5 separate regions of the Homo sapiens genome follow, and all the other regions are linked to region 3. Evidence: fine-mapped expression QTL. A gene starts in region 3. Each other region holds a variant in brackets. All regions are shown on one strand. Distances are from middle to middle. Region 1 overlaps P2RX1 (purinergic receptor P2X 1). Region 2 overlaps TRPV3 (transient receptor potential cation channel subfamily V member 3). Region 3 holds the start of TRPV3 (transient receptor potential cation channel subfamily V member 3). Region 4 overlaps TRPV3 (transient receptor potential cation channel subfamily V member 3). Region 5 overlaps TRPV3 (transient receptor potential cation channel subfamily V member 3).

What was found.
Region 1: its variant is fine-mapped to the expression of TRPV3 in breast (GTEx, PIP above 0.99).
Region 2: its variant is fine-mapped to the expression of TRPV3 in whole blood (TOPMed, PIP above 0.99). The same link has a PIP of 0.9 or more in NK cells and blood mononuclear cells.
Region 4: its variant is fine-mapped to the expression of TRPV3 in blood mononuclear cells (TOPMed, PIP above 0.99).
Region 5: its variant is fine-mapped to the expression of TRPV3 in whole blood (TOPMed, PIP above 0.99).

The regions. Positions count from the first base shown.
Region 1 is chr17:3,907,630-3,911,746 of GRCh38, forward strand. All of the region lies in intron 1 of P2RX1 (purinergic receptor P2X 1), which reads right to left. Among named protein-coding and RNA genes, the nearest start is that of P2RX1, 6.8 kb to the right of the region's middle. RefSeq lists enhancers at 3,595-3,644, 4,025-4,094. The variant C/T (reference allele first, on the strand shown) is at 1,643.
Region 2 is chr17:3,512,958-3,517,074 of GRCh38, forward strand. It overlaps TRPV3 (transient receptor potential cation channel subfamily V member 3), which reads right to left. Exons shown (of 18, transcript NM_145068.4): 16 at 3,500-3,612; 17 at 1,636-1,715; 18 at 1-1,054. The coding sequence ends at 960. It also overlaps a transcript of SPATA22 not described here. Among named protein-coding and RNA genes, the nearest start is that of ASPA, 39 kb to the left of the region's middle. The variant A/G (reference allele first, on the strand shown) is at 2,207.
Region 3 is chr17:3,556,008-3,560,108 of GRCh38, forward strand. It overlaps TRPV3 (transient receptor potential cation channel subfamily V member 3), which reads right to left and starts at 1,805. Exons shown (of 18, transcript NM_145068.4): 1 at 1,669-1,805. RefSeq lists a silencer at 764-823 and enhancers at 2,005-2,821, 2,464-2,523, 2,604-2,653, 2,684-2,913, 2,822-3,636 and 2 more.
Region 4 is chr17:3,526,313-3,530,429 of GRCh38, forward strand. TRPV3 (transient receptor potential cation channel subfamily V member 3) reads right to left here. Exons shown (of 18, transcript NM_145068.4): 9 at 3,715-3,891; 10 at 2,525-2,683; 11 at 1,713-1,814; 12 at 542-615. Among named protein-coding and RNA genes, the nearest start is that of TRPV3, 29 kb to the right of the region's middle. RefSeq lists an enhancer at 1,293-2,213. The variant A/C (reference allele first, on the strand shown) is at 2,313.
Region 5 is chr17:3,533,961-3,538,077 of GRCh38, forward strand. It overlaps TRPV3 (transient receptor potential cation channel subfamily V member 3), which reads right to left. Exons shown (of 18, transcript NM_145068.4): 7 at 1,613-1,753. Among named protein-coding and RNA genes, the nearest start is that of TRPV3, 22 kb to the right of the region's middle. RefSeq lists a silencer at 1,789-1,838. The variant C/T (reference allele first, on the strand shown) is at 2,200.

The DNA.
Region 1 (4,117 bases), 350 kb after region 3:
GCACTGGGGCCAAGTCACATGCTCCCGAAGCCTAAGCTTGGTCACTGCTGTCCCCTGCAGGTCCCAGATAGCAACAGGTGGAGGCATGACAAAGGCCTCTGATCCTCAGTGTCCTGAGTCTGTCACGCTGCCTCCAGCCCCATCAGGGAGAGCAAGAGCATTGCCCATCCCCCCACTGGCCTCCTTGGGCCCCTTCCTCCAGGAGGGCCTCTGGTTCTGTGTCCAAGCCAGAAGGAGCTGATGCAGGGGGGAGGAGGAGTTTCTCCTTGTCCTGGGCCCCTCTGCAGGACAGGCCACTGACCTCCCTCTCGGCACCTTCAGCCCCAACAGCTTAGCAACGTTTCTATCTTTGCCCAAAACGAACTTTCTACCTTTTCCCAAGAGACAGGGAAGCTGAGGCCTGCAGGAGTGGCGGTCTCAAGTGTCCCCATGCTTGAGGCACCCAGCCCAGGACTCAGCCCACCTCCACTGAGCAACACTGGCTTCGACGTGTCTCCCAGGAGGCAGAGCACAGAGGGGAAACAGAGCCACCTGGAGCCCACAAGCCGGGGCTGATGCACCTTGGAGCTGCCGGTCTTGAGGTCGAAGGGAAAGGTCGGTCAGATCTGGCATTCATGACCTCAACTCTGGTGATAATAGAATGACTATGGGCTGGGCGCGGTGGCTCATGCCTGTAATCTCAGCACTTTGGGAGGCCAAGGCAGGTGGATCACCTGAGGTCAGGAGTTCAAGACCAGCTTGGCCAACATGGTGAAACCCCAACTCTACTAAAAATACAAAAACTAGCCGGGCATGGTGGTGGCGGGCACCTGTAATCCCGCTACTTGGGAGGCTGAGGCAGAGACTCACTTGAACCTCAGAGGCGGAGGTTGCAGTGAGCCAAGATTGCACTCTGCACCCCAGCCTAGGCGACAAGAGTGAGACTCCGTCTCAAAAAAACAAAAAATAATAATAGAATGACTATGGTGCCAGGCCTGCTCCTCCAAAGCCATGCCTTGATCTGGCCTTATTGTCACCACCCTGGGAAGACAACCAAGAGGGCCTGATGTCAGACACAGGCATCTTCAGAAGCCTCTCCCCTTCCAGAAATAACCCTCACCATGCTTTCTACCTCGTCATCAGCAATCCCCCATCCTGGGGCTCTCCAATGGCCTTCTCAAGGAAGAGGCCACAGGGTGGAGTGGCTGAGGGTCAGGTGCCAGCCCTGCTGCTCCCCAGCTGTGTGGCTTCAGGCTAGAGACTACACCTCTCTGAGCCCTGGTTTTCTCAATAAAACAGAGGTGACGCCACCTACCTCAAAGGCGCTGCTTATTCATTAAGTGTTTAGTGAGGCTCTGCTACAAACTCAGCCTGGGCCCCAGGAGACAGAAGCATCTAGGTAAGTGTTTGGGGGAAGCTTCTATGAGTTCTTTTTTTTTTGAGATGGAGTCTCAGTCTGTTGCCCAGGCTGGAGTGCGGTGGCACGATCTTGGCTCACTGCAACCTCCACCTCCCGGGTTCAAGCAATTCTCCCACCTCAACCTCCCGAGTAGCTGGGACTACGGGCGCGCCCCACCACGCCCGGCTAATTTTTTTTATTTTTAGTAGAGAGAGGGTTTCGCCATGTTGGTCAGGCTGGTCTGGAACTCCTGACCTCGTGATC[C/T]GCCCGCCTCGGCCTCCCAAGGTGCTGGGATTACAGGCGGGAGCCACCGCGCCCGGCCTCTATGAGTTCTTAAGGAAATTAGCACAGTGCCTGGCACTCAGTGGGCACATATAATGAAAACCTCCCATTTTCACTGTTCTCCGTTCCTCCTTCACAAATTCCTCTTTCAATGTTGATCCGCCCCCATTCCCTGAGTGAGCTGCCTCAGACACGCTGTGTCCCCAGAATTCTATCTCCAGACTGCACTCTCCCCTGAGATTCAATTCCACACATTCAATCATTCAACAAACATGAGCCGGGTGTGGTGGCTCAGGCCTGCAATTCTAGCACTTTGGGAGGCTGAGAGGGGAGGATCACCTGAGGCCAGGAGTTAGAGACCAGCCTGGGCAACATAGTAACACGCTGTCTCTACTAAAAAACAAAAACAAACACGTATTTATCCAGCCCCTATTCATGCGCCAAACACTGTTGAACAAAACAAACACAAAAGTGAACAAAACAAACAAAAATCTCGCACCCAAGGGTCTTACACAGATGCTCCTCAAATGACGATGGGGCTATAACCTGATAAACCCATCCTGAGTCAAAAGGCTCTTAATACCCCCAATAAACCCACCATAAAGTCAAAAAATCCTAAGTCAAACCACGCTAAGTCCAGATGCTCCTCAATTTACAATGTGGTGATGTCCTGATAAATTCTTTTTTTTTTTTTTTTTTTTTTGAGACGGAGTCTCGCTCTGTCCCCCAGACTGGAGTGCAATGAGGCGATCTAGGCTCACTGCAACCTCTGCCTCCCGGATTCAAGCGATTTTCCTGCCTCAGCCTCCTGAGGAGCTGGGATTACAGGCGCACACCAACACGCCTGGCTAATTTTTGTATTTTTAGTATAGACGGGGCTTCACCATGTTGGCCAGGCTGGTCTTGAACTCCTGACCTCAGGTGATCCACCCACCTCTGCCTCCCAAAGTGCTGGGATTACAGGCATGAGCCACTGTGCCCGGCCTACGAAATCTATTTCGTGCCAAGCACTAACCACTATACAGACAGAAATTCAATTGGATCAACCTGAACTCTTCATCTCCCTTTAGAACTTGTTCCCCTGTGTCCTCGTCATGGAGAATGGTGCTGTCCTCACCCTATCACCCAGGCTCAACACCCAGGCAGCATCCTCACAGCCACCCTCCCCATCATGCCCCCACATTCATTGGATCCCCCAGTCCTTCTGGTCCTCCCTCGGCTTTCATCTAAGGACCCAGAAGGGCTGGTTTTGGGAAGGCTGAGACACTGGAGGAGCTGGGACAGGTGCGGGGGCAGCTCTGGCATGGGTTGGGAGGACCGGCCAGGTGGCTGGTGGGACACAGGGTATGGCCATGGGCCACAGGCAGGAGTTGACCAGATGGGGCGTGTGCTGTCAGGGAGCAGCAGCCTTGGGGAGGGGCATGAGCAGACTCCAGGCCTGGGAGGGAATGTGCTCAGAACTGGGGCCCACCCTGAGGCCCCCATGCAACCCGCAGACAAGTCGAGGGGCATCTGGGTTAAGTTCCTTGAGTGCAGGATCTTGGTTTGTTTTGTTCACTTCTGTATTTTTAGTGTCTAGAATAGTGCTTGGCACATAATAGGAACTCAACAAACACTGTGTGTTGAATGACTAACTGAATGTGGAATTGAATCTCAGGCCAACCATTTGTGTTTTTAATTATTTTATTTTTATTGTTCTTTATTTATTTTTGAGACAGGGTGTCACTCTGTCCTCCAGGCTGGAGTGCACTGGTGCAGTCGTGGCTCACTGCAGCCTCAACTTTCCAGGCTCAGGTGATCCTCCCACCTCAGCCTCCTGAGTAGCTGGGACTGACTACAGGCACGCGCCACCACACCTGGGTAATTTTTTTTTTTTTTTTTAGATACAGGGCCTCACTGTGTTGGCCAGGCTGGTCTTGGACCCCTGAGCTGAAGTGATCCGCTCACTTTGGCCTCCCAAAGTGCTGGGTTTACAGGCGTGCACCATGGCACCCGGTCTGTTTTTCTTTCTTTCTTTCTTTCTTTTTTTTTGAATACGTCACCAATCTCTAAAAACCAAGCGGTTTCTTTCATGCATAAATCTCACTTCCCACTTCTCTTGAGACGTCGGAAGCTCTGGCTGTGCCAGGTGTTACGTGCTGCGGCAACAATGGGCAGAAGCTGAGCAGGGGCCGCCCCAGGCGTGAGGCCTGCCGGGGTGACGACATCTGTCACCCGTGCTCACTGCCTCTGCCTTGGGTCCCGCCCCGTCCCCCCTTCCCATCCCTGCGGCCTCTTCACAGCTGTCCTGCCTCCGGTCCCCACGCCCACCCCTGCCTGCTCCAGGCCCTCCCCTGCTAGACATCCTGTCTTGGCTCCCTTCTGCCTGCAGAAGAAATCCGGGCGCCTCAGCCTGGTGTTCAAAGGCCTTCGCCATCGCCCCTGCTCTCCCTTTCACAGCCTCTCCCTTGGGCTCCT
Region 2 (4,117 bases), 43 kb before region 3:
CGATCCCAGCACACAGGCACGCGCTACTGTGAGGTCAGGACGAGGAAAAGAGCCAGGACCTTTCACCCAGATCGCGGCGGCCCAGCAGGACTTGCCCGGAGTGTCTCATGCAGACTTTTGTGTGTGTGAAGAAAAGCTTTTTGTCTTGCTCTGGGCACCCTGAGGCCAAATATATAATACTTACATCCAGCCCCAAAGCCCCCAGTCTGTCTCCACTTTTAAAATCACAAACTTCATTGTAGTAATTTTCATTCTCAACTGAAATGTCTTTTCCGTATTGCAAGTTAAAACCCTGTGTTAATTCTGCTACTAAAAACATCTCTCAGCTTGAGACAGTTTGAACCTTGGGGTGTCAGGGGACGTTCACTCCAAGGATGGTCTCCTTTTCCCCGAAGGGTTCCGGAAGGGTGTTTCCAGAGCGCATTCCCCTCCTCCCCCAGGATATCCAGCTTACCTCCGTCCCCCGCACACTCTGGGATGGGATCACGGGTCTCCCACAAATTCAGGCAACCCAGTCACAGCAGAAGAGATGGTACAATGTGTGGGCTGGGGTTGGGGCTGACGGGGGAAGCTGGCAGGAGGAAAGACTCCTCTCCCTGCTCCTCAAGACTGCTGCCCCTTTCCCGCCATCCATCTCTCCCAGCCAAGCCGACCTGCAATTGGTAAAACCAGAGGCTTCACCCGGGACTTCAGGAGGCTCCCAGGCTCCAGACTGCTGCTGGCTGTAGGTTTACACCAGCTGTTTGCCAAGTAACAAAATCCAGGATGTTTCCCACTCAGACAAATTGACAACTGCCCCTCAGTTCAGACACCCACTGAGCACTGAGCACGAGGGTGCACTCTGCTTCTAGGCCAGCAGAGCCGGACTCCACCATCCCTCAAAGCCTCTCTGCACAGAGTCGGTGACTCCGCCTGCAGCGCCAGACAGCGCACGCGCACACCAGCTCTGGGTTCCGCTTCTACACCGAGGTTTCCGGGAATTCCTCGACTTCTTCAAATGCATTGAGAGTGGTTTTGCTGTTGTTCCTGGAAGAATCTTGGATTTTGTTGAAATCTGCTTTTTAAAAAAATATATATTTTAGAAATATATCACTCTGCATAGTGTGTTTCTTTTTTCTTTTTCTTTTTTTTCTTTTTTGAGATGGAGTTTCCCTCTTGTCACCCAGGCTGCAGTGCAGTGGTGTGATCTCAGCTCACTGCAACCTCCACCTCCCAGGTTCAAGCAATTCTCCTGACTCAGCCTCTCGAGTAGCTGGGATTATAGGCACCTGCCACCACGTTCGGCTAATTTTTGTATCTTTAGTAGAGACAAGGTGTCACCATGTTGGCCAGGCTGGTCTCAAACTCCTGACCTCAGGTGATTCACCCGACTCGTCCTCCCAAAGTGCTGGGATTACAGGCACGAGCCACCGCGCCCGGCCTGCATGATGTGTTTCTATGGCTTAGGGCTACGCCATTTTAAAAGTTGTGCCAACTAGGGTTCTAAAAGTCAGAGCTGGAAGAGACCTAAGAAGCATTTCCATTCAACCCTCCCATTTGACAGATGGGGAAAGTCAGGACCCTTAGACTTGATCTGCCCAAGGTTACATGGTCTGAGACAGGAGCGGACACCATGTCACCTCACAGCGACAGTACCTGTTCGTCTTACAGGCCCCGGGTCTTCGTTAAGGAAGGAGACGTGCGTCTTCCATTCAGTCCACTTCACCTCATTGATCCTGCAAATGTGATAATCATTCTTACTATTTCACCAGTGCCTCACTGAGTACTAACAAATAGCCCTGCGTTTGGGACGTCCTGGTGTCTACACAGCTCCCCTTCTGTCTGTCCTAGAGATCAGGAGCACCCCTGACCCGAGGGGTCACACCAAAGTTGTTGGAGTTTGAACTCTATCCCCATCTCCACGTCCCCAGGCCTCAGAGAATCAGTTCTCCTTCCATTGTAGGGAACTCGGAAATCCTGCAAGTTGCCCAGACAGGTGTAAAGGGTCCAACTTCAGACAACAGCTGCTGTGCCTGACTGGTGACAGCCCAAGGGGAAGCGGGGACAGACAGAGGGAGGGCCCGGGCCACGAGGGTGTGAAGATTAAACTCCAAGTGTAGCAGGGGTTGAGGAAGCACGAAGAGCCTGTGGTTAGGGTCAGTGCCCCAACAAGAGTGGGTGGCGTCTGAGGTGTTAGAATACAACCATAGGCATTGATGTGACTTCA[A/G]TTCACACCCAGAGAACATCTCTAGAGTGAGGGTGGCAACATCACAACTGTTTGTTAGGGTAATGATTGCAGTCAGAAATGATGCTTTCCACGGGGCGCGGTTTCAGTCAGAGAAGTGGGTTAAGGTATGGTCATACTCCGAGAAGGTGGTCTGTAGGCTCAGGCAGTTGGGTCAGGGTAGGAGGAGGTGGGCTTATCAGAAAAGGTGTTCATGGGGCCGGGCACCGTGGCTCACGCCTGTAATCCCAGCACTTTGGGAGGCCGAGGGGGGTGGATCACTTGAGGCCAGGAATTCAAGACCAGCCTGGCCAACGTGATGAAACCTCGTCTCTAATAAAAATACAAAAATTATCCAGGCGTGGTGGCATATGCCTGCAGTCCCAGCTACCGGGGAGGCTGAGGCAGGAGAATCGCTTCAACCAGGGAGGCGGAGGTTGCAGTGAGCAGAGATCGCATCACTGCACTCCAGCCTGGAACTCCTTTTAAAAAAACAGAAAAGAAAAGGTGGTCATAGGATATGTAAGGACTTTAAAAAAAAAATGCAAAAAGCCAGAGATCTGTCAAAGTAGCCACGTCACTTTCCATCTGCCAGGGGCAAAAGGGGCCTCAAGTCACCCGGGGTCACAGGAACTCACACAGGGTAAACAGCAGGAAAAGGAGTACCCAGCAGGCAGATCTTCCCTAAACCAGATAGCGAACACAGAGAGACCATGGAGGCACCTCCAAAAAAGCAGAGAGAGGGGCTGGGTGCGGTGGCTCATGCCTGTAATCCCAGCACTTTGGGAGGCCAAGGTGGGTGGATCACCTGAGGTCAGGAGTTTGAGACCAGCTTGACCAACATGGTGAAACTCTGCCTCTACTAAAAATACAAAATTAGCCAGGGGTGGTGGCGCATGCCTGTAGTCCCAGCTACTCGGGAGGCTGAGGCAGGAGAATCACTTGAACCCGGGAGGCGGAGGTTGCAATGAGCCAAGATTGCGCCATTGCACTCCAGCCCGGGCAACAAGAGCAAAATTCCGTCTCAAAAAAAAATAAAAGAAGAAAGAAAAATGCAGAGAGGGGAGCCGCTGTTGGCAGTCTCCTTCTCTTTCTCTTCTGAAGCTCAGGAACCCCCATCTCAGGGCCTGCAACCCCATAAGCAAATTCCTTCTTCCAAGGAGGCCACTGGAAGAGACAGTAGCTGTGGTTATGGTTAGCAAGTGGCGGCACTGTTTCTCTAACATCCTGTCACCATCCTGCCCCTCTCTACCCACCCCAAAGACCACCACCCCAGGGCCCTTCTCCCTTTGTTACCGCAAACACAGTCGGAAATCATCCTCGGCCACTTTGCACAGCTCTCCCATCCGGAATCTGCTCCTCAGCCATTCTGGTAACATTTTCTCAAACTCCAAGATGGTCCTGGCTCTCTGGGGACATAAGCAAGTCTAAGGAGTAGGCATCCACACTCACAAGCACACACAAGGGCACACACACTGTCGGGGAGCCCACTCCACCCTCACCTCATGCTTAATGCATAGATCGCAAGGGTTTGGCTAATCTACAGAATTCAAAGACAAAAAAGCAGGCCGGGCACGGTGGCTCACACCTATAATCCCAGCACTTTGGGAGGCCAAGGTGCGTGGATCACCTGAGGTCAGGAGTTTGAGACCAGCCTGGCCAACATGGCGAAACCCTGTTTCTACTAAAAACACAAAAATTAGGGCTGAGCGCACTGGCTCTTGCCTGTAATCCCAGCACTTTGGGAGGCCAAGGCGGGTGGATCACCTGAGATCAGGAGTTCGAGAGCAGCCTGGCCAACATGGCAAAAGCCGGTCTCTACTAAAAACACAAAAATTAGCTAGGCGTATGTCAGGCGCCTATAATCCCAGCTACTCGGGAGGCTGAGGCAGGAGAATCACTTGAACCTGGAGG
Region 3 (4,101 bases):
CTCTACTAAAATACAAAAAATTAGCCGGGCATGGTGGTACATGCCTGTAGTCCCAGCTAGTCGGGAGGCTGAGGCAGGAGAATCACTTGAATCCAGGAGGCAGAGGTTGGATTGAGCCGAGATTGTGCCACTGCACTCCAGCCTGGGCGACAGAGCGAGACTCCGTCTCAAAAAAAATGAAAAAAAAAAAAAATAAAGTTTTTATTAAACATAAAAAAGGAGCTATGGCTGACCCCTGGGGGCAGCTGGGAGTTGGGTGCAGAGGCTCTGGGTTACATAGGAGAGCGCGGGCTGCGTTGGGGGGTGGGGGAGACCAGAAGCCAGGGGCCAGGAGGAGGCTGCTGCAGGGGCCATAGGGACGGGGAAGGGGGCCAGCTGGCCACAGAGGGATGACATGGGCGGGGAAAGGGCTGTGTGGACAGGTGGTGACTGTGTGGTCAGGGGGTGCCACTCTCAGCTTGAATCATCCTCAGGGGACTCACCTGGCGACACATAGGTGGGGGCAGGAAGACGGATTTCTGTAAGAAGAACCCAGCTGGGTGGGGTGGAGCTGGGGCCACTGGTGATCCTACCCCAATAGGAAAGCTTCCTGGAGGAAGTTTCCGGAGCCAGGTGTCATCAGGCTGGAGAGAGTCCCCCGCCCTCCAACTCAAAGGGAGCAGGCTCAGGATGGAGGAGGCATCGGCGAGGGAGAGCTTTGGCCCTGGAGCGTAGGCAACCTTGAGGCCAGGCAGGTGGAGTAGCCCACAGAGAGGGACTCCTGGGCACCCGGCCCTCCCGTGTCCAGTCACGGCCTGATGAGGATGGGCAGCCTCTATGGCTTTCCCCATCCCCACGTGGCCTTTGGTGGACTAAAAGGCTGGGATGCACCGAGCGTGAAGGAGACAGAAGAAGGGCACGTCTCTTGCCCCTCCCAGGGCCTCTGGTTTCCTTTCTGAGAAGTGGGCTGAATGGTCCCCAAGGACTCTGTGGCCCTGAGAGCTGGTTGCTCTCTCTCTTCTCTGGGCCCGAGAATGTGGCCTGCCCTGGGCCTCTGGGGCAGGAGAGGCTCAGGGAACTCTGGACTAGGGCCGCAGCAGCTATCATTAGCTCCCTGAGTCACCCCGTAAACCCCACGTTCTCACCTGCTGGACTCTCTTGTTGCCCTGGCCCTCCCTCTCTCTCCCAATCCCTGACACTGATTGAAATGGCCTTTCCCGGGCGACAGACCAGGCCGCGGAGCCACAGCTGCTGACTCAGCACCTGTGAGATGCCTGGGCCCCGTCTGTCTCCCACGGTGGGGCCACCTCCTCCCATCCTGAACTCCCATCACAATCCTGCCCCAGAAAGCCACCTCCCTGGGTCAGCCTCGGGAGGCAGGAGCCTCTCCTCTGCCCCCAGCAGTGGTGAGATTGAGATGTCCCTCCCCAGGATTCCCAAACCTCAGGGGAATGTTCCTGAGTCTGTAAGGACCTATATTCTCACACATCCCTACAGCCAAGAGTGCAGCCAAGAGTGCCTCCCTACAGCCAAGAGTGGGCCCCTGGCTGGGGCCCAAGCTCCTTCCAACCCTCCTCCCAAGGCCTATTGGCCAAGGGCAGACATGGCCCAGAGGACCTCTGAGGGCCACGCTCTGGGCTCCCCAGGGGCCTTGGAGATCACCAGCTGCCTTGTGCACAGAAGACTCACCTGGTGAGGTTCTGGGTGGTCGTGGCAACCCTTGCCCTGAGATCACCGCATGTCTGGGGCCCAAGGCCCCCGGGTGGGACTGTGGCTGAGGCGGCGGGAAGCTCTCATTGCAGGCAGAGGGATGGCTGGAATGAGGCGTCAGAGGCAGAACTGGCTGAGCCACCTGCCCTCGGCGCCAGGCAGGCCACGCCCACCAGCCACAGCTGCAGCACCCGCCCACCCACGTGGCCCGTGTGAGTCACCCCCACACCCACACAGCAGCCTCATCCCCACCGGAGAAAAGGCAGGGGAGGCCGCAGGTGCCAAGATCGAAGTTGTGGGTCCAACTCCTCCCTCTCTGGCATTCCATGCTGGGCAGGGACTGCCCATCTCAGGCCTATTTTTCCAACTAGGAAATGGGAATGATAACATCTACTTTCCAAGGGAGCCGTGAAGAGCCAAAGAGATCACAGAGGTGGGAGGGCCTAGTGAAGAGTCAAGCGCTCTGCTCTGTCCCCTGGGAGGGAAGACCGCAGCCCAGGCCTAGCCTGGTTGACCTCAGGGTGGCCAGCCCCAAGACTCGGCACTTGTTCTCAAAAGTCGGTTCCTGGGATCAGGTCTCTCGGGGACGGAAGTCCCCATTTAATGCTGTCCACCAGCAGTCACGCATCATGGCCCTTAGTGTCAGCCTCACCCCTTCCTGGCTGAATGACCTTAGCAGGTCATTTCTCCGAGCCTCAGTCTCCTCATCTGTGAAACGTGCTTCATAAACCCACTTTGCAAGGTTATCGTGGGGCTTCAACAAGTACAAGTAGAAAGGGCCAGAACAAGGCCCAGGGCACGGCAAGAACTCAATAAACAATGTCAGCTCTTAGCTATGATTGCTTTTGTCATCTCAATGTATTCTCCCAGCAACTGCCCAGGTTGCCCTTCTCCAAGGCCAGGGCGTCATAGAAGGAATCGGTGCCCTCTCTCCTGGCCCAGGCTGCAGCTGTGAAGTGGGTGGAGTGAGTCAGGATGGCCGTGTGTGTCTCGCGTCACTCAGGAACTGCACACCTGCTCCCCGGGGCGAGATGTGGACAAGACACAGCTGGGACAGAGCAGGAAGTCTCTGCTGACGCGGCCGCAGCTGGCGCCTGATGGGCAGGGAAATCCCCAGCTGTGAGCCTCTCAATCCCTCATCATCACAACCTGCCTGGCCTGGGGAGGAGGCAGGAGGCAGGTGAGGCTTCTAGGCCACGGGAGAGCAGGACCTATGGCCGGTAAGGGGCAGACCAGACTTGAGGGTGTGGGTGAAGCAGGAGACCGCTTCTGCCGTTGAAGTCAGGGGGTCCTGAAGTTCCCACTCACAATCTGAAATCTCATGACTGTGCCTGAAACTCGACCGGAAAAGCCCGATCTGGGGTTGAGCACGGCCTCCGGCCACTAGCTTACTCACCCTCTCCCGACCCAGCCCCGCGCCCTCCCTGTTTGCCTCTGGCGGCTCAGACGCCTGGGGAGGAAGCTGCTGCCAAATGTCAGTGCTTCCATTTTGCTCGTGTTCATAACTTTTCTCAGAGGGCAGGTGGGAGCTGGTGAAAAAGGCCCCTGTCTCCCACCCAGAGGTGTGCCCTGTGCCCAGCAAGGAAGAAGGGGACCCCCGCTCTGCTATGAGAGGCAGCAGGAGCCAGGTCACCCAGTGGAGTCACAGTCACTACTTAGGAAGCCCGAGCCCATCCTAATCCCACCCCAAACACACAGAAGCAGCAGCTTCAGCCCCTTAGATGGTCTATATTCAACCCCATTTAACCCAGCACATGGTGAGAGCCCACGGGAGAGGCCGTGGCAAGGGCGCAGGTGGACAACGAGGGATTCAGAACTGGAGAAGGCCGTGTCCACCCTCGTGGGCCACAGGGGACACAGGCTCAGGCAGGAACCATGACCCACCATGTGGGTCATCAGGACAAAATGGGCTGAGACCCCCAAGGCGGGAGGAAGTCCCTGTGATGGGGTGTAGGGGATGAGTTCGGGAAAGAGGGAGCATCTGCCTGGACTTGGAAGGAGGGAAGAGGCCACAACATGGTGAAACCCCGTCTCTACTAAAAATACAAAATTAGCGGGGTGAGGTGCTGCACACTGTAGTCCCAGCTATTCGGGAGGCTGAGGCAGGAGAATTGCTTGAACCTAGGAGGCAGAGGTTGCAGTGAGCCGAGACTGCACCACTGTACAGCCTGGGCAACAGAGCGAGACTCCGTTTCCAAAAAAAAAAAAAAAAAAGAAAGAAAGAAAAAAGAAAAAGAATGGAAAAGTGAAAAGGAATATGATCAGAACAAAAATATAACATGCTATAGTGTAAATGCATACAACACATTGGTCAATGCTATTAAGTTTAAATTAAACACACACACACACACAGAGAGAAACAGAAAAAAAGATAAAAGATAAAATGACCACTTCATACTCTTTAGAATGGCC
Region 4 (4,117 bases), 30 kb before region 3:
ACTAAAAATACAAAAAGGAGCCAGGTGTGATGGTGCACGTCTGTAATCCCAGCTACTCAGGAGGCTGAGGCAGGAGAATCGCTTGAACCTGGGAGGTGGAGGTTGCAGTGAGCCGAGGTCACGCCACTGCACTCCAGCCTGGGCAACAAGAGTAAAACTCCACCTCAACTAAAAAAAAAAAACAACAACGTAAACAGGACTGCTAAGCCTGTTGCCGCCTTCTCCACTCCATGCTGCCTTCCACGTGGGGCTCTGTGATGGGTAGAGTTGGCCATCACCACCATCTCAGCCTCCCAGAGTGCTGGAATTACAGGCGTGAGCCACTGGGCCCCACAGCCCTGAAGTTTTCTGACCTTCTCCATGGGCATTTACGTGTCTCCTACTAGGAGGAAGAGAGGAGACCCCTGGCGTGTAACCATGGCAGAGTGACTGGGACACCGTGGCACAGTAGGATATTTGTTCAAGAGGCGGACACGGCAGCCACCATACAGGACGTCAACCCTGCCTGTGAGGCGATAACCAAGGGGCCAGACCTACTTACAAGACAAAGTGGAACCAGGCATCCGAGAGGATGGACTGCAGATCCGAGGGTCTCAGCAGGAAGATGGCAATGCCCTAAGGCCAGGAAGGAAAGAAACAGTGCACCCTCTTCATGGCCCTCAGCAGGGGAGCTGAGCAGAGGGTGCTTCCCCAGGACCAAGACTCAGTGAGGGTTGAATGCACAAAGGCCCAGCTAGAGTCCAGGTGGCGGATCTGAAAGGGGACCTGTGCCTGGGGGGCGTAGGCACCTCCACGGTGAAGGTGAACGCTCCCTCAAATCTTCTCACCTCCCTCACTCCTTACCCCATCCTCACCCCAGAACCTGCAAAGCGGTACTACCACTACAGCCGCCTTCCATTCCCCACATCCAGCCTAGCGTTCCAGCCTCCGAGCCTTTGCTCATGCTGTTCCCCATATCCACCCTGTAATGACCTTGTCCTCATCGTCCTCGTGCCCAATCCTACCCCACCAGAGTAAGTGCCATCTCTGCCTTCAAGCATCTCTACCATTCCCTGTCCCCAGATAAAAGTCACCTCCCTTCCTCTGAACACTGATCTGAACCCAGCTTAGGGTCTTTTTCGGTCTATCATAAAGTCTTGATATTTATGCCTATGCTATGTCCCCAACCAGGCTGTGAATTCAAAGAGGGCAAACTCGTCCCAACCCTGTCACCTCCTCCAGGGCCACACATATATAGAAGGTGCTCAGATTATATGTGTTGATTCATTGGATGGATGGAAGGATGGATGGATGGATGGATGGATGGACGGATGGACAGATGGAGAGATGGAAAGATGGTTGGATAAAGGATAGAAGGATGGTCGGTAAGGATGAGTGGACATGTGAATGGATGAATGAGTGGCTGGGTCCATGAAAGAGGGCAGGTGATCGGATGGGTGGATGGGGGTGGAAGAGGACAAGGGACACTGAGTGGCTGGGAAGGTAGATAAATGGCGGATAGTTGGGCAGATGGATAGAGAAGTAGATGGATGAAGTAGGTAGGATAGGCCAGCCTTATCCATTTTTTCCCATGTTATAACTCAGAAAGGTAAGGCTTGGGAAGGAAACGCCTCCCCAGAACCCCCCAGCAGTAATGGCAGAGCAGAGAGGGATGGAGGCTGTCACCTGCCTGCCTCGCGGGGCGGTCTGGAAGGGCCGGGTGGCCCACTTACCTCTTTCACAGAGATGCACATGGCCCAGATGAGCACAAACATCCTCCCTAGGAGCTGCAGCCACCCCATCTTGTGCGTCAGGGCCAAGGGGTGCGGGATGGCCTGCAGGGAAAGAAGAGGGGTGGTCAGTATAGGAAGCAAGGAGGACAGGGCTGGCACCAACTCTAGAGGGACCAAAACCCAGGTGAAACACTCAAGCCGGGCCAGAGACCAGCATGAAACCTGATCTCTGTACAGGGCAAGAGAAGGAAGAGCAGCTCCCTGACCCCAACTCTCCTCACCCTTGATGGAAACCCAGAACTCTACAACGAAGAATATCATCCAATCCGTGCTAACAACCCTCACACTCCATTGCAATAGCCTTTCCGGAACCCATCCATATCCAGGCACTCAACATGGCCTCACAGCACCGTTAAATAAAGCCGAGGCTCTGTGCCCCACGTGACGCATGGGAAACCGAAGCCCAGCAGGCAGGGAGAGCTTATCCTCCTCCCGTTTCCTGCAGCCCTCACAGCAGAAACACCCAGCTAGTTCTATATTTACAGACAGAGACCCTGTGCAGGGCCTGAGTCTCCGAATTCTCCAACTTTCCTCCCAGCA[A/C]GGGTCTGCCCTTGGGACTCGGCACCTGGGGCTTAGCCCAGGCTAAGCACTGAAGACATATTCAGTTCCCTGGGAAGCGTGAAGGACAACTGGGGGACCCCGCCCAATCTCCTGGTCTCTCTGGGCCTCAGTTTTCCCACCTGCACGTGGGGCAGCTCCAAGCCCCTCCAGCTCTGACGGCCCCATTTTCCCCCTCCAAGGGGCCCACGTACCTCCTCCTCCCGGGGGCGGTAGTACGAGACGAGGGTCAGGGTGATGTTGTAGAAGAAATAAAAGCAGAAGGACAGAAAGAACATGTGCTTGGCAAACTTCTTCCACTTCATATGCAGCAGCGTGTGCAGCGGCTCCAGGGTCAGCATCTCATGCCGGTTCTAGGGGTAGAATGCCACCAGTCACCATGGAGATGAGGGAGAGAGGGAGGGACCGTTTTCTAAAGGCCTGCGGGAGCTCTGAGTCAGTGCTGCAGAAGGGGCCCATCATTATGCCCGATGGACTGGTCTGGTTGGAAATGCTGGGAGGGTGATTTCCGGCTCCTGAGGCTCCTCCCCAGGGTACTAGGGCAGCAGTCAGAGGCCGCAGGAGCCCGGGCTTGCAGCAGGAGGACCCGATGCACAGCAGAAAGTGGAGGATAGAAGCGGGCAGGAGGTGGTGGCAGGGGTTCCAGCCCCAGTTTGCTCCTCCTTTGCTGTGTGACTTTAGGACAGACCCTGACCCTCTCTGGGCCTCAGACTCCTCACCTATAAAACTGCTAACAATCCCTGCCCTACCAACCAGGCTGCTGTGAGGGTCTGGGAAGACCCAAGGCAAGGGGACTCTGGGAAGCATGACTCTTAGTAAAGTATGAAGGAGGAAGACCCAGCCTGCTGCCTCACTGCCCCCAAGAGCTGAACACCTCTCATAGCTGCTCCTCTCTTCACCTCCAGTTGCACCGAACTCTCCCCTCTAGCCTCCTCCAGGAAGGCCCCCCGATTGCTCCTCAGTGCACTCTCTGACCCTCATTTGGGACCAGGTTTTGGGGAAGAAAGAATTCTAAGCCTGGCCGTATACACCAACGGGGGGTGGGAGAGAAACAATATGGAAAGGATCAACCCCAATCACCCCATCACCCACACCCACACCCAAACAGCCCTGGATACTCGGTCCAGAAGACCTCCCGCCCACCGCCCCCGCCACCACCACTCAGGTCTACAGTCCAAGGTCAATCAGGAAGAGTCGGGCCCAGCATCTGTCCCAGGCCTCGCCTTTTCTGTGCCTGACTCTGCTCACTGAGGCAACAGAGTGGGGTATGCAGATGCCGAGGGATGGAGCTGGCAGCACTGGGTCTTCCCAGCGTCCTCTCAGCCCCTGGCCTGAGGTCCAGCCCTCTTCTCCCTGCCCTTCCCCGCCTGTGCAGGAGACCCACGTCGATGTTGGTGTTGTAGACAGTGATTTCCAGCACTGAGTTGTCCGTGGTGGTGTCCACGTTGGTGAGGTCGTAGAGGGAGGATGACACGGGTCCGTACGCCCAGTCGGTGAACTTCCTGGACAGGCTCCGGAGCCGCTTCTCCTTGATCTCACGACTGAGGATGTACTTCAGGATCTGGGACAGGAGGAGGAACAACCATCAGCTGCAGAACAGGGGCTTAAGGCCAACAGGGCTGGACCAGCCAGAGGCTGGCTGGGCCCAGGGGATACACCCGCCCAGAATGGGTGGAGACCTGCCTCTGCGCCTGGCGCCATGGCCCCTGGGCCCCGTCTTTATCTGTGGAATGCGCACAAAGCTTGCTGTTCCGCCCATCTCACTGGGGGTTGTGAATACCAGGGAC
Region 5 (4,117 bases), 22 kb before region 3:
CCTGATGTAGACAGTAAGTGCTCAATAAATGCTTGTTAAGAAAAAATAAGGCAAGTGACTCACATGAGGTCACACAGCAAGCCTGGGACACGACCAGCTCCGGACACCAGGTCTTCAGCTGCCTCCCCTCTCCTCGCCCCACCCAACAAATGCTTCCCAACACCAGGTCCAACCAGCTCCTATGCAGGGCAATGGGGACACACGATGAACTGGACAAGACCCCGTTTTCCAGGACACCCACACCTGGACACGCAGGGCTGCCCAGAGCACAGACTAGCTAGTCCTGCTGATTAAAAAACCACCCAGAAGATAGTCCCAGCTACTCAGGAGGCTGCAGCATGAGAATCGCTTGAACCCAGGAGGCAGAGGCTGCAGTGAGCCAGATGGCACCACTGCACTCCAGCAGCCTGGGCAACAGAGTGAGACTCCATTAAAAAAATAAAAATAAAAAAAATAACACCCAGAAGAGAAAACAGATGGGTGATCATCAGTCAGGCAAGACTGGGTGGCAGGAGGGGTCTCCTCTGCAACAAAGTTACACAGAGAAATTTTTGTGTGTGACGGAGCCATTTGTTCCCTGTTCTGACTGCAGTGGTGGTGAACCAACTCGACGCACTGTGAAAATGAACAGAACTGTCCTCTAACACGGGTGACTTTCACTATATCTAAATTATGCATTTCAATTTTTTTTTTTTTTCCTAGAGCATCCTAACCCCAATTGCTTCTGGACTCTGTGACTTGTGAGGCAGGGGAGTTCTGCCCTCTCACTCTCGACTCCCTGTCTGCAGTCCTGAGATGCACTGGGCCCTGGCACAGAGGTCAGAGCTGGAGGCCAGGACACCTAAGTCAATGCCCTGCTACCCTGGGGCAAGTCCTTTCCCTTCACAGAGCCATCTCCTCGCCTGTAAAATGGGGCTGCCTCCTCAGCCTCCCTCCCAGGTCTCTGTTCCCTCAGAGAGCTACCCAGGACAATGCTTCTAAGACCACCAGGTGACACCACCGGAACATGGACTCCTCCCCCAACACCTCCTCCCAGCCCCTCCTTCTCTGGTCCACCCTGGTGTCCTGCTCAGATGGACATGCCCAGCCTCCTCCCCTCCTGCCCCTCTGGGGCACCAGAGCTTCTTAAGGCAGGGACAGTGTGGGTGGAGCTCAAAGCGGGGTGGCCCCTCCCTTCCTCCCTCCTTCCTTCCTTTCTCTCCCTCCGCCCTCCTTCCTCCTCCCTTCCTCCCTCTCCCTCCTCCTTCTCCCTTCTGTCTCCTGCCTCCCTCCTCCCTCCCTCCCCCTCCTTACTCCTCCTCCCTCTCCCTCCTCCCTCCTCCCTTCCTCCCTCCTTCCTGCTTCCCTCTTCCTTTCTCCCTCCTCCCTTCCTTCCTCTCCCTCCTCCCTTCCTTCCTCCCTCATCCTTCCTGCTTCCTTCCTCCCTCCTCCCTCTCCCTCCTCTCTCCTTCCTGTTTCCCCCTCCCTTCCTCCCTCTCCCTCCTCACTTCCTTCCTCCTTCCCTCTTTCTTCCCCCCTCCTCCCTTCTTCCCTCCTTCCCCTTCCCTCCCTTCCTCTCCCGTCTCCCTCCTCCCTCCTCCCAGACTCCGCACCGGGCGGGGGCGGCACCCACCGAAGTAGAAGCCTTCGTGTTGGTACTTGGGGTTGAAGAAGGCCCCCTTGGCGTGCGCGTTGACGTCGGCGCCGGCGGCGATGAGCAGGGCTGCGATGTCCCCCTGCCGCCGCTCGATGGCGATGTTCAGCGCCGTCTGCCCTGCGGAGCGGGCGGGGACGCGCGGGAGCCTCAGCGCCGGGCACAGGGGCCTCTTGCCCACCCGCTCTGGCCTCCATACCCTCCCCGAACCCACGGGGAGATCAGAACCCTGGTCTGTGTCGCCAGCTACCAGGAATCCCAGCTTTGTTCTTTGCTTCCTTCATGCCTGCGCGGACCCAAGAAATGTTTGTGGAGCGCCTGCTCCGGGCTCCGGCCCCAGGCGCTGGGGGTCAGTGGGTGCCCAAGACGCAATCTCGATTATTTTCCTCAAGAAGCCCGCAGTGTCACTGAGAACGAGGTGCTACGATTCAGAGGGGTGCAGGAGCTGCGGTACCCAGAGCAAGGGCCCTTCACAGCCAGAGAGCGTCAGGGGGCTTCCCAGAGCTCTCTAACCTGGGACCTCAGAAGTTTAGCGAGGCGGTGTGGGGCCAGCTCATCAGCCAGGG[C/T]AAGAGGGCAGAGCTTGTGCTAAGGGCCAGAGTCACAGACGGCCTTGAATTAGGAAACTGGCAGGACGAGAATGTAGGGCTCGGTGCATGGGTGTTTTCAGACCTCTCTGGCTGCAAAAGTGGAGGATGCGTTAGAAGCAGCCGAGACCAGTGAAGGAAATGATGAGGCCTGTAATCCCAGCACACTGGGAGGCCAAAGCAGGTGGATCACCTGAGGTCAGGAGTTCGAGAGCAGCCTGACCAACATGGTGAAACATGGTCTGTACTAAAAATACAAAATTAGCCGGCCGTGGGGGCGCATGCCTGTAATCCCAGCTACTTGGGAGGCTGAGGCAGGAGAATCGCTTGAACCCAGGAGGCAGAGGTTGCAGTGAGCCGAGATTGGTCCATTGCACTCCAGCCTGGGCAAGAAGAGTGAAACTCCATCTCAAAAAACAAACAAACAAACAAAAAAATGATGAGGCCTGGACTAAGGGGAGTTGGAGGGCACATGAAGGGTGGAGAAAGGAGGAAGCCCAAAGACCCTCTGGAGAAAGAGCCTTCAGGATGCCCGGCTGGGAAGAAGGGTGTCTCAGGTAAGATCTAGGTATTCAGCCCTGGCGGTGGGTGAATGATACGCTGGTGACACAGCAAGAGGAAAGAAGGGTAGCGGGAGAGACACTAAGCCTGCTGGAGACCAGAGAACTTCCAGATGGAAGGGACCAGAAGGCTGGAGTGGGGGAAGGGTCTCGAAATGCACCAACAGAAACAGCAGTTTCCAAAGAGCTGCCGCTGTGTCATAAACAAACATAGTCTTGGTGGATTAAAGAACCAAGCTTTAAGACACATTAGAAAGTTTGTTTATAGCTAACCTTTTGGTAGGGAAGACCTTCTTAAGCAGGATCCAAAAGGCAGAAACCATAAAGAAAAGGCTGACATATTTGCTTACATAAAGGTTTTTGGTTTTGGGGGTTTTTGGTTTTTTGTTTGTTTGTTTGTATGTTTGACATAGGATCTTGCTGTGTCACCCAGGCTGGAGTGCAGTGGCGTGAGCATAGCTCACTGCAACCTTGAACTCCTGGGCTCAAACGATCCTCCTGTCTCAGCCCCCCAAAAGCTAGACTTTCATATTTGGCATAAGAAATGCTCTAAGACATACAGTTAATCAAACAAAGCAACTTGTAGAATACAGACGTGATGGTCCTATTTTATGTTAGATAAGTAAATAAAACTATTTCTGTGTACATATATACACACACACGTGTGGACTACAGGCCTGCACCACCACTCCCGGCTTATTTTTAAAATTTTTTGTAGAGACAGGATCTTGCTGTGTTGCCCAGGCTGGTCTTGAATTCCTGGGCTCAAGCAATCCCCCTACCTCGGAGATTTCTGTATTTCCGAATGCATCCTAATGAAAGTTAAAGACAAGTGATAGGCTGGGGAAAATATTTGAGATATATAAAAAGGCAATGTGTTTTAGGGCCGGGCGCGGTAGCTCACACCTGTAATCCCAGCACTTTGGGAAGCCGAGGCGGGTGGATCACTTGAGGTCAGGAGTTCGAGACCAGCCTGGCCCACATGGAGAAACCCCATCTCTACTGAAAATACAAAAAAATTAGCCAAGTGTGGTGGCGGGCACCTGTAGTCCCAGCTACTCAGGAGGTTGAAGCAGGAGAATCACTTGAACTCAGGAGGCAGAGATCGCGCCACTGTACTCCAGCCTGGGCTAGAGAGCAAGACTCTGTCTTTTTAAAAAAAAAAAAAAAAAAAAGGCATGCCAGGCACGGTGGCTCACACCTGTAATCCCAGCACTTTGGGAGGCTGAGGCGGGCAGATCACGAGGTCAGGAGATCGAGACCATCCTGGCTAACCTGGTGAAACTCTGTCTCTACTAAAAATACAAAAAATTAGGCGGGCGTGATGGTGAGTGCCTGTA